Homo sapiens: one gene and its partners. The protein of the gene in region 3 purifies or fractionates together with the protein of the main gene of each other region. This does not show direct contact. Each region holds a gene or a part of one and is shown on either strand. Other genes may lie near its edges. The genes, in order: NFXL1, CDKAL1 and SLC2A13.

The links.
Region 1: the proteins of SLC2A13 (region 3) and NFXL1 purify together in Homo sapiens (affinity purification with mass spectrometry; one large-scale study listed by BioGRID and IntAct). This does not show direct contact.
Region 2: the proteins of SLC2A13 (region 3) and CDKAL1 purify together in Homo sapiens (affinity purification with mass spectrometry; one large-scale study listed by BioGRID and IntAct). This does not show direct contact.

Annotation. Positions count from the first base shown.
Region 1 is NC_000004.12:47,900,998-47,904,656, reverse strand, and holds part of NFXL1 (NF-X1-type zinc finger protein NFXL1), read left to right. Parts: intron 1-1,333; coding exon 1,334-1,464; intron 1,465-3,659.
Region 2 is NC_000006.12:20,544,377-20,548,035, forward strand, and holds part of CDKAL1 (threonylcarbamoyladenosine tRNA methylthiotransferase), read left to right. Parts: intron 1-1,962; exon of another isoform or gene 1,963-1,969; 5' UTR 1,970-1,974; coding exon 1,975-2,147; intron 2,148-3,659. UniProt on the Homo sapiens protein: Catalyzes the methylthiolation of N6-threonylcarbamoyladenosine (t(6)A), leading to the formation of 2-methylthio-N6-threonylcarbamoyladenosine (ms(2)t(6)A) at position 37 in tRNAs that read codons beginning with adenine.
Region 3 is NC_000012.12:39,757,180-39,760,116, forward strand, and holds part of SLC2A13 (proton myo-inositol cotransporter), read right to left. Parts: coding exon 2,847-2,937; 3' UTR 1-2,846. UniProt on the Homo sapiens protein: H(+)-myo-inositol cotransporter. Can also transport related stereoisomers.

The DNA of each region.
Region 1 (3,659 bases), on a different chromosome or scaffold from region 3:
GACCTTAGATTAATTCACTGCTATTATAGCAGCATTGCCTAGAGAAAGCAAATCAAGTCAGATGAAATAGTTTGGTCATGTAGAGTGAATCAGAAATTTAACATGCTCTGGTTGGGTAGAAGAGTATAGCAGATACAGATGCCTTTTGTGCCTAGAGTCACATCTAGTTGGTTTACTCTGATTTCAGCTGCAGGGAATGCATAGTCTCTGCATGCAGATAGAAACCCACTTTAAACATTTGCTGTGTGTGTGCGTTTTTTCCGCCTCTCAATTTTGTTCTTGGAAATTGACTTAGCTAGTACATGGGTATAGTGCAGAAGCACTGGGGAGTTAAAGCCCCTTGCAGCAACATTGCACCACAGGGAGTTGGTAGGTGAATGCCCCAACCTCCTTTCCATTAGCGAGTGGGGCTGGGCAGTCCAAGGCGTGTTTTACATGGTTTTACAGAGGGTCCCCTGGAGGATTGAGCTTCTGTGGCCCTTAGTGGTAATCAGCTCAACCATATGCCATTCATTGGTTATTTCTTTTTCCCTGTCTAGTCCCCTTACTCCTGCATCCAAGTTCTTAGATACCGCTTTGGGGGTAACCCAAACTAAGAAGTCGGCTGTTTAATGCTGTTGTTAGCTCATGCGATATGCTACATGTCTGATTTTATCAAACAGTTGTAAAATGTTATAAGGAAAGGGGAACTGATTTTTATCAGTTTTATCAAAGTGTTTGGCAGGTTTTAAAAATTAATTTAGTATTATTTCTTAAGCTTTTAAATTATGTATATTCTTGTTTTTTGATTACCTAATTTTTAGAATTTAGCATTAGTTAGGTGTTAGACTAATAGGTTTTATATAACAAAAGGGCTGTGTAGAGATATATGTACATATTTATGTTTAAAGATTCTTTTGTAGTGTTATTTATACTTGGAAATAATCATCCAACAAGAAATTTAAGTACGTAAGTCTACATGGTGTAATGTATAGCTATAAATATGCTTATAGAAAAGACTATAAAGTTACATTTCAGTTATTATAGTATGACCTCATTTTTTAAAAGTATGAAAAAAATATATATATATAAATTTGGAGATTGTCCAGAATGTTAGCAGTAATTATTTCTAGCTGAATGAATCTGTTTGACTAATAATAATTTTCTTCGAAGTATCCTACATTTAAATGCATTTCCCATGAAACAGTTCTTCTGTTATACTGGAAGGAAAGACCTTTTTTCTTTAATCCTTAGGTAGCTCTTGAAAATAGTTTAGTGTGATACTCATTTTAAATTATTTTACAATTAACAAAGAAAAATTAACATATATTAACTTCTGATACATTTGTCTTAGGTTTGGAGCTGTTCGGGATGTTTCTGTATATTTCACATGCCCTGTATCCAGAAGTGGGCTAAAGACAGCCAGTTTCTTGTATCTTCTGTGACTGATGATGATTTTGGAAAGAAAGATTGTCCCTGGCCTTGGTAACTTTTTCTAATTAGTTGGATTATTATTATTATTTTCAGATGGAGTTTTGCTCTTGTCACGCAGGCTGGAGTGCAGTGGCGATCTTGGCTCACTGCAACCTCCACCTCCTGGGTTCAAGAGATTCTCCTGTCTCAGCCTCCTGAGTAGCTGGGATTATAGGCACCTGTCACTATGCCTGGCTAATTTTTTGTATTTTTAGTAGACACAGGGTTTCACCATGTCTGCCAGGCTGGTCTTGAACTCCTGACCTCAGGTGACCCACCCCAAAAAATCCCAAAGTGCCAACTAGGCTGGCACGCCACCACGCCTGGCCTAATTGGATTATTAAATTGTAGAATAAATGAAGATTGTAGATTCTAAGTTGCTTTATTGGTGGTTTCAATATCCATGTTGGGCTTTTAATTAGTCATTTGGTGTGTGAAGATGTGGAATCTTGATAAAGTCTTGTTTTTTTCAATTTGAATTTCTATAACTACTAGTTCCTTTTGATAACTAATAAATCATCCAGACTTAATTTTTCCTGTGCAAAACAATTCCTTAATTATCCTTTGAAAGGACTTTCAATTTTCTTTAGGACTGAGAATCATTCATAATTGTGATCTTCTTGTCCAGAATTCTATGAGTATGCATTATTATTACATTGTACAAGACTATCATTTAATGTATTTTGATTATAAGATTCCCAGTTTTATCCTCCCAAATCTCAAAACTGCAGGTGTATATTATACAATATCATTTTTTTACATTTATTAGTTTTGCTTATTATTGATGATTATTTGATCTGGAGAACTTTTGTTATATTTCCAGAAAGAGTTGGAGAGTAGAATTTTATATCTCTGCTAAGTAAAGACAATAAGAAATTTATTCATATTGGCTGCCCAGAGAGGTAGATTGACTGTCAAAGTAATGAAGCATAAGCTTCATGGGCTCTGTGTGGTCACATTTTGTAACTTTAGTAACTAATTTTATGTTTAAATTTTTTTTTTATTTTAATTTTAATTTTTTTTGAGACAGAGTTTTGCTGTATTGCCCAGGCTGGAGTGCAGTGGTGCGCTCTTGGCTCGCTGTAGCCACTGCTTGTCGGGTTCAAGCGATTCTCCCGTCTCAGCCTCCAGAGTAGGTGGGATTACAGGTGCCTGCCACCATGCCTGGCTAAGTTTTGTATTTTTAGTAGAGATGGGGTTTCACCATGTTGGCCAGGCTGGTCTTGAACTTCTGGCCTCAAGTGATCCACCCACCTTGGCCCCTCAAAGTGCTGAGATTACAGGCATGAGCCACTGCGTCTGGCCAGTGGTGTAGTTTTTAAAAACATTTAGATGTGCTAGTTACTTTTAGAAGAGTATGTAAAAATAATTCTCAGCAATCTGTGAGAGATTTTATTCTCCTGTTACCAGTGGGGATATTGAAGTTAATTGAAGGGAAATGACTTCTGACTCCTCACTCTTAAGTAGTGGAGCCAAAATTTGAAACCTAGGATTTCTTACTTTTAAATTCAGTGCTTTTTCTATTCTTCCACCTGAGTTATCTCTTATGACCTGGCTTTTAGAAATATTATTTTTCTTTTCATTGAATACACACTTTTTGGAAACTGTTTAACATTTCAAAGTATATTTGTTTTGCTCCTGCATATTATTTACTGGTGGTGGAGGAATTTTAGTGTCTAATAGGTACGGAATTAAGCCAGGTTTTAGTTTAGAGATTTAAACCTTATGTATATATTTTTTTACCCTCGCTCTTCTCACTTCTGTTTTAAGTAGTCGTTTTGCCACAGAGGAGGAAAGGATCAGTTAAAAAAAATGTACTGTTAACTTCTAATTTAAAAGGAACAACAGTTTAATCAGCTGTGCCATATACTTTGCATTCCATATTTCATATTTTTTTAAGAAAATAAATGACCATTCTGGTTAAGAACCCATTTTGTTTAATCCTCATCAAGATGGAGCTAGAACTTGGTAAAATGTTAATAATTTTAAGTTATTTTATGGAAATAAAAAATTTAAAATATAGGTTTCTACTAAGATACTGCTTTTTAATGAAGAAGATCTAGCATAATTACATTTCATTGTTGGCATCCCATTATTTAAAATAAAACTCATGCGTTTGCACATATTACCCTCACTGGGCCAGTTCAGTTTCAATGCTGATGGGCAGTGTTAAGGTATGTTGAGTTGCCTATTAGTCATCCATACCC
Region 2 (3,659 bases), on a different chromosome or scaffold from region 3:
CGCGAGGTCAGGAGATCGAGACCATCCTGGCTAACACGGTGAAACCCCGTCTCTACTAAAAATACAAAAATTAGCCGGGCATGGTGGCGCGCGCCTGTAGTCCCAGCTACACGGGAGGCTGAGGCAGGAGAATGGCGTGAACCCAGGAGGCGGAGCTTGCAGTGAGTCGAGATCGCGCCACTGCACTCCAGCCTGGGCCACAGAGCGAAACTCCGTCTCAAAAAAAAAAAAAAAAAAAAAAAAAATTGGGTAGACCAGTTCTTCTTACTTTACTCTTCTCAAAATTGTTTTAAATATATTAGTTTCTGTACATTTCCATATAAAATTTAGGATAGTCTTATCTATACCTACAAAAAAATCTTCCTGGGATTTTGATAGGGATTATTTTAAACTTGTGTATCAGTTTGGTCTCCACTGACACTGCAAAACTTCATTACTGGTCGGTTGGTTGGTTTGAATGTCCAGGATCCCTCCAGGTCCTTCTCTGATTCTACACTAGTGGAGTGTGTTGGGGTGCTTGATTGTAGGTAGAAGTCCAAGCTCTCCCCACTTGGCCTTTGTAGCGTGCCTGGGGGTGGGATTACAGTTTTGTGTGTGTGTGTGTGTGTGTGTGTGTGTTTGTGTTTGGCTGGAGTAGAATGATTATTATCTAAAACTTTTCTGTCTTCCTAGGCTGCCCTTTGTATAGTTCTTTAACGAGAAAGCAGGCTTTTATTGGGGGGTTTTATTGTTGGCATCTCTTGCCATTTCTGATTGCTGGGATCTTTAGTGAGCTGTAGGAGGCAGAAGAAAACCCAAGGAACTCATCATATTCCTTGGGTCCTGAGGTTCATAGCCAGTCTGCCTTATGCTTGTTTTATATATAATGTCCAGAGTTTTATTTGTATTTTGCTGGCGGGGCAGGGAAAAATGTGCTTATCTTCTTGCAAGCTGTGTCCACATTTTCTTCTTTTAATTATAAAAATTTTGAATATTTAGAAAAGTCGTATAGGATAATGAACATGAACCTATCTAGTTTCTAGTTTTAAGAGTTGTAAATGCTTTTCAGTATGTCTTAATCTATTTTTTCTTCTTTTTTGAGATGGAGTTTTGCTCTGTTGCCCAGGCTGGAGTGCAGTGGTGCACTCTCGACTCACTGCAACCTCTGCCTCCTGGGTTCCAGCGATTCTCCTTCCTCAGCCTCCCAAGTAGCTAAAACTGCAGGTGTACACCACCATGCCTGGCTAATTTTGTACTTTTAAAAGAGATGGGGTTTCACCATGTTGGCCAGGCTGGTCTCAAACGCCTGACCTCAAGTTATGCGCCCACCTCCCCAAAGTGCTGGGATTACAGGCATAAGCCACCCAAAGTGCTGGGATTACAGGCATAAGCCACTGTGGCTAGCCAGTCTATTTTTTCTGAGGTCCTTTTAAAGTAAATTATAGACATAATGACATTTCACTTCTAAATATTCAATATGCATCTCTAAAAAATAAAATTTTTGAATATAAGGACAATACTTTATATCGAATGATTTATAATAACTTCTTCATATTATCTAATATCCAGCTTATATTCTGATTTCCCTAGTTATACCCAAAATTTCTTATAGCTTGACAGACAAAGAAGAAACAATCAAGAACATGAACTGCATTTTGTTGTTAGGCTTTTACGCTTCCTGTTATCTGAAACAGTTCCTCTCCTACTTTTTCCTACTTGACATTGATTTGTTGAAGAAATAGTTCCTGTTGAACCTTGGAATGTCCCATTGTCATTAGGGTTTTGTCTGATTGTTTCATTGTGTTTCTTTTTTCAATATACCCAAGATAGTACTTCATCCTTGTGTTTCTTTATCTCTTGTATTTTCTATAAATTTGAAGTTAGATCCAAAGGCTTGATTAGATTCAAATTTGGTGAGAATATTTCATAAATGATGCTACGCTAAGCAGATTTTCATAAGTTGATTTTATTTATAACTTTTATGTGGTAGAGAATATGCCTTCTGCATCCTGTGATACACTACTGGATGACATCGAAGATATCGTGTCTCAGGAAGATTCAAAACCACAAGATAGGCATTTTGTAAGAAAGGATGTTGTCCCGAAGGTACGAAGGCGAAATACCCAAAAATATTTGCAAGAGGAAGAAAACAGTCCACCAAGTGACAGGTAAGCTTTTTTCCTTGAAATTATATTCATTTTCTTTTTTTTTCTTTTGAGACAGAGTCTTGCTCTGTCGCCCAGGCTGGAGTGCAGTGGTGTGATCTCGGTTCACTGCAACCTCCTCCTCCTGGATTCAAGCTATTCTCCTGCCTCTGCCTCCCTAGTAGCTGTGATTACAGGCACACACCACCATACCTGGCTATTTTTTGTATTTTTAGTAGAGATGGGGTTTCACCATGTTGGCCAGGCTGGTCTTGAACTCCTAACCTCAGGTGATCTGCCCACCTTGGCCTCCCAAAGTACTGGGATTACTGGCCTGAGCCACTGAGCACGGCCGAAATTATATTCATTTTCATTCCAGGGAGAAGCTGACGCTACTGGTCTGTGTGATATATATAATGTCTCTTCATTAGAATCTTTGAACTTTTGATAGGAAATACAAGTTGAGTATCACTTATCTGAAATGCTTGAGACCAGAAGTGTTTCAGATATCACATTTTTTTTTTTGGATTTCGGAATATTTGCATTACATACTTTCCAGTTGAGTATTCCTAATCCAAACATCTGAAATGCTCCAGTGAGCATCCTTTGAGTATCATTTTGGCACTCAAAAAGTTTCAGATTTTAGAGCATTGTGGATTTTGAATTTTTGAATTAAAGAAACTCAACCTGTATGTAGATTTTTTTTTTATTTGAATGATTTTAAATTTGGCAAGGTAATTGGTTAAAAAGAAATGAGATGTCAAATTGGATGTTCCTAGAAGATAGCCTCGGGCAATAGGGATCTCTTGGGTATTACTGTAGTTGATATGTAAGTCTGTGTTATTTCCAAATAAAATTTTTACCAGAGTTTGTGATTCTTATGAGACAGTAGTATTTTGGACATTTGAATTTTCTTAGCTGATTTTCAAATACCTGTGGATCAGGTAAAGGCAGTGGGCACAAATAAATTATTGCCCTATTTACGCTATTATAGTAGATCTCTAGTCCGTGAAATTTTGATACAACCTAACCAGAAAGGATAATGTAATTATATGGTTTTAATAAGCCTATATTTGTTTATCTAGTCAACTGCTGAACTTTATAATCTGCTTATTTTGTTGGGAAACTAAGCTTTTAAATTCTTGGAATTTAAAATTTGCTTATATTTTAATGACTGAAGTTTATAAAATTTGTCCTAAATGTGTCCTTAAGGTAATTTTTATTTACTTATAAATTATTAGAGCAATCCAAGTTGAAAGTCCTTTTTTCCCCTAAAAGTTATTTTTAGAACTCTGATTTTATAGAGTGCTTTTAATAATGCTTTAGGATGACGGTTTTTAACTTTGATTAAGTTACTTATATCTGTAAGTTTTAAGGAAGCTACAGATTGCAACTAGTATGTAGGAATCTGTAAACAGACATACTTTTCTTTATTTGCCATTGCTGCTAGAACCACTTTCTTTCCTATTGTTATTTTTGTGTACCTTTCCAGGAGTTGAACTTAGTAAGTTAGTAGTATGAATTTAAAATGCAATT
Region 3 (2,937 bases):
TAGGGATTTGGACCTTCTTCATTGTATTTTCCTAAGACATAATATACCTCTATCAAATCTGCAGCATGTTTCAAAGGAAGTCTGTAATTTTGGTTGAAAGCATGATACGTAATCTGTGTCTGCTTTAATATGGTAGGTCAAATCACATCATATATAAATTGTCCTACAAAATATATATTTGATGATACTACAAATGGAATGTTTCCAAGTTGATAGTGGTAGCCAAATATGCTGGGAACTTAAAAGGTGCCTAATATAAAAAAACCTGCAAAATTTAAACATTTAATTTTTAATATACTATAAATGTTCACCAAATCTAAAAATAATACCCTAATTGTATAAGGTTCCTTTTCAAGTAATTGTTTCTAAAAAGTTATAAATAATTCTTATACTGTGCCTCTCTGTCTTATACTTCAAAGATATGGAATATTATCTTTAACACTATATAAATAACAAATAGTCCTTTAAAGTAGGGGCTCAGGGGAGTAGGGGAGGAGAACTGTGGCTAATTTTCCCTGTTATTATGTGCATTTATGGTTATAAAGTTGAAAACATTGTTTTCTTATATCAGGGAGAACAGGCCATGTTCTGCTTTAGGAAATAACAAGAGTCCAGTTTCTCCTTTAATAAAGTTACTGTGCATCAGCCCAGCTGAGTTTATAAGTATATAGTTAGTTAAGGCTACATATACAATAAAGAGAAGGATTGAGGCAATTATTTTGATTAAGTCCAAAAAATAAATTTTTAGAGAGCACTTTATTGGTCTACTTTTTCTCCTTATTATATTTTGATTGTACCATATAGTAGCTTATTTTTCACTTCAATTTACCTGTGTAAAATATTAGATAAGAAATTTCTTATGAGATAAGAAATATCAATAGAATAATAATTTTCCCTATTAAATCATATCTGCTTTTCTGAGGAAAAAATCAATACTAATATTCCCTTGGAAATCAATTGTTAAAGCACCTAATTCAAGGAAAAAACCTCTATAAAATATTAATTTTTTTTATTATATGAAATGACCAAAGGGAGAAAACGTTTTTGTTTTTGGTTAATGGATTTTTAGGGCACTAAATTGACAGTTTAAGCACATATTATACCTCTGGTGACTTAGAGAATGAACTTCCTCAGCTGTATTCTCAGCTTGATAACTGTGATAGGAACAAGCCAGACATTAAAAGAATAGAGTATCTTGGAGACTGGAAGAAATATTTTGAATATGGAGATAGCCACCTTTTCTCTCCAAATACAGTACCTTATTAGATGTTTAGAGCCATTTAAAAATGCATCAAACTGATGTATTCCTAACTGGCCACAGAAGATTCATTCATATTTTTCCTGGAACTAGCAAGTAATTTTGTGATCAAGTAATTTTGTACATACTATATAGTTCTTAATAGAAAAGCAAAAATTAAGAGTTCAGTGATGAATTACCATAAAAACCAATGAATACCTTGGAAAGACATTGTGGAAATATAATTAAGCCTGCATTTCTTATAGACGTGCTATATTAGAACCAATTATCTGTTCCAATAGGCAATCTCAATTTTTACACAAGAAGGAAAAACTAAGCCAAGAATAAGAAAAACACAGAGACAAATCTATGTATCTTTTTTTTTTCTGGTAAATTCTCAGGAAAATGAGAAAAGTGTGCAAAATAAAAACGAGTTTATGCTCTTAAAGTAAAAAAAGACAAGTACAATTAAATAATAATATGTGACATTTCCCTTAGGAAGAGCTAATAAAAAGTTAAGAAAAAAGTCCCATTATTTTTATTAAACAAACACCAATAACAGCAGGATTATTTCTGCCACTGATTTCCTTCCTCTTTTTTGTTTCAAAAATTATTGTTTGAATAAAAGAAAGGGGAAAAATGGTTTGCTTGCAGCTATGTATGTAACACAAATGAAGGCACGAAATAGTAGGACTCCAAGGCCAATGAGGAAGGTGTAGTGATTTGGGCATGAACAAAAACTGACCCTGATATACAGTTAAAGATCTGGCACTATTTTGCATTTATAATTGCATACCTAAGTGACTAACCAATTTGGAACCCATAAAAACCTTTAATCTGTTACTTTCTGAACATAAAAGGTACTTCTCAAAACTTCCTAGCTCATCTGCGCAAATGTATGCCTTATCACTGATGCAAAAAAAAGAAGTATGAAAACAACCCGACAGATTATATTTTCATAATGTTCAAAAGATAGTGTGCAGAGTCAGTATCTGAAGAACTCCCAATATCTGAATTGGAGAGAAACAAAAATATGGAATCCAAAGGAGATACGGACAGCTGTGCCCTTGTAGGAGGCACTTTGGAATTTGTTGATGAAAGCTTACATGGAATTTAGTTTGTAACAGCTGATCAGAGATAAGCCACTACTCTGTAGGAAAACTGAGGGCCAATAGGCCATCTTTTGACACAGAACACCCTTGGACCATCTCCCAGAATCCTTTATAAATATATTATACATATGTAATTTGGCTAGATTAGCACTGACTCTGTTGCCACTAATAATTATAAATGGTCTTAGGAAAAAAGGATACCACTGAAGTCACTGGGTACAATATTCATTTTAGACTATTTCAGGAAGGCATTACACACATTTGCTTAAGAATTATTAGATTAAAATCTCTGTAAATATTTTTTAAAATATTGTTCCTTGTGGAAAAAAAAAGTCATCATGGTTGTATCTTCCTCCTAATCAAGTATTCTAGAATATGAAGTCAATCAAAACTAGGCTGTGGAAAGAACCAGATTAGAAGCAGGGCAGTGAAGTCACCAATTGCTGTTCTTCTCCCCCCAGTTTGTTTAAATAACTAAATATATGAGCAGCTGAAAATTATTCCACATCAGAAGCATCATTGTCAGAAAGATGATAGTTACTTCCCTTTACCCGAATATATTCAATATATCTCCCTTCATCAGAATCT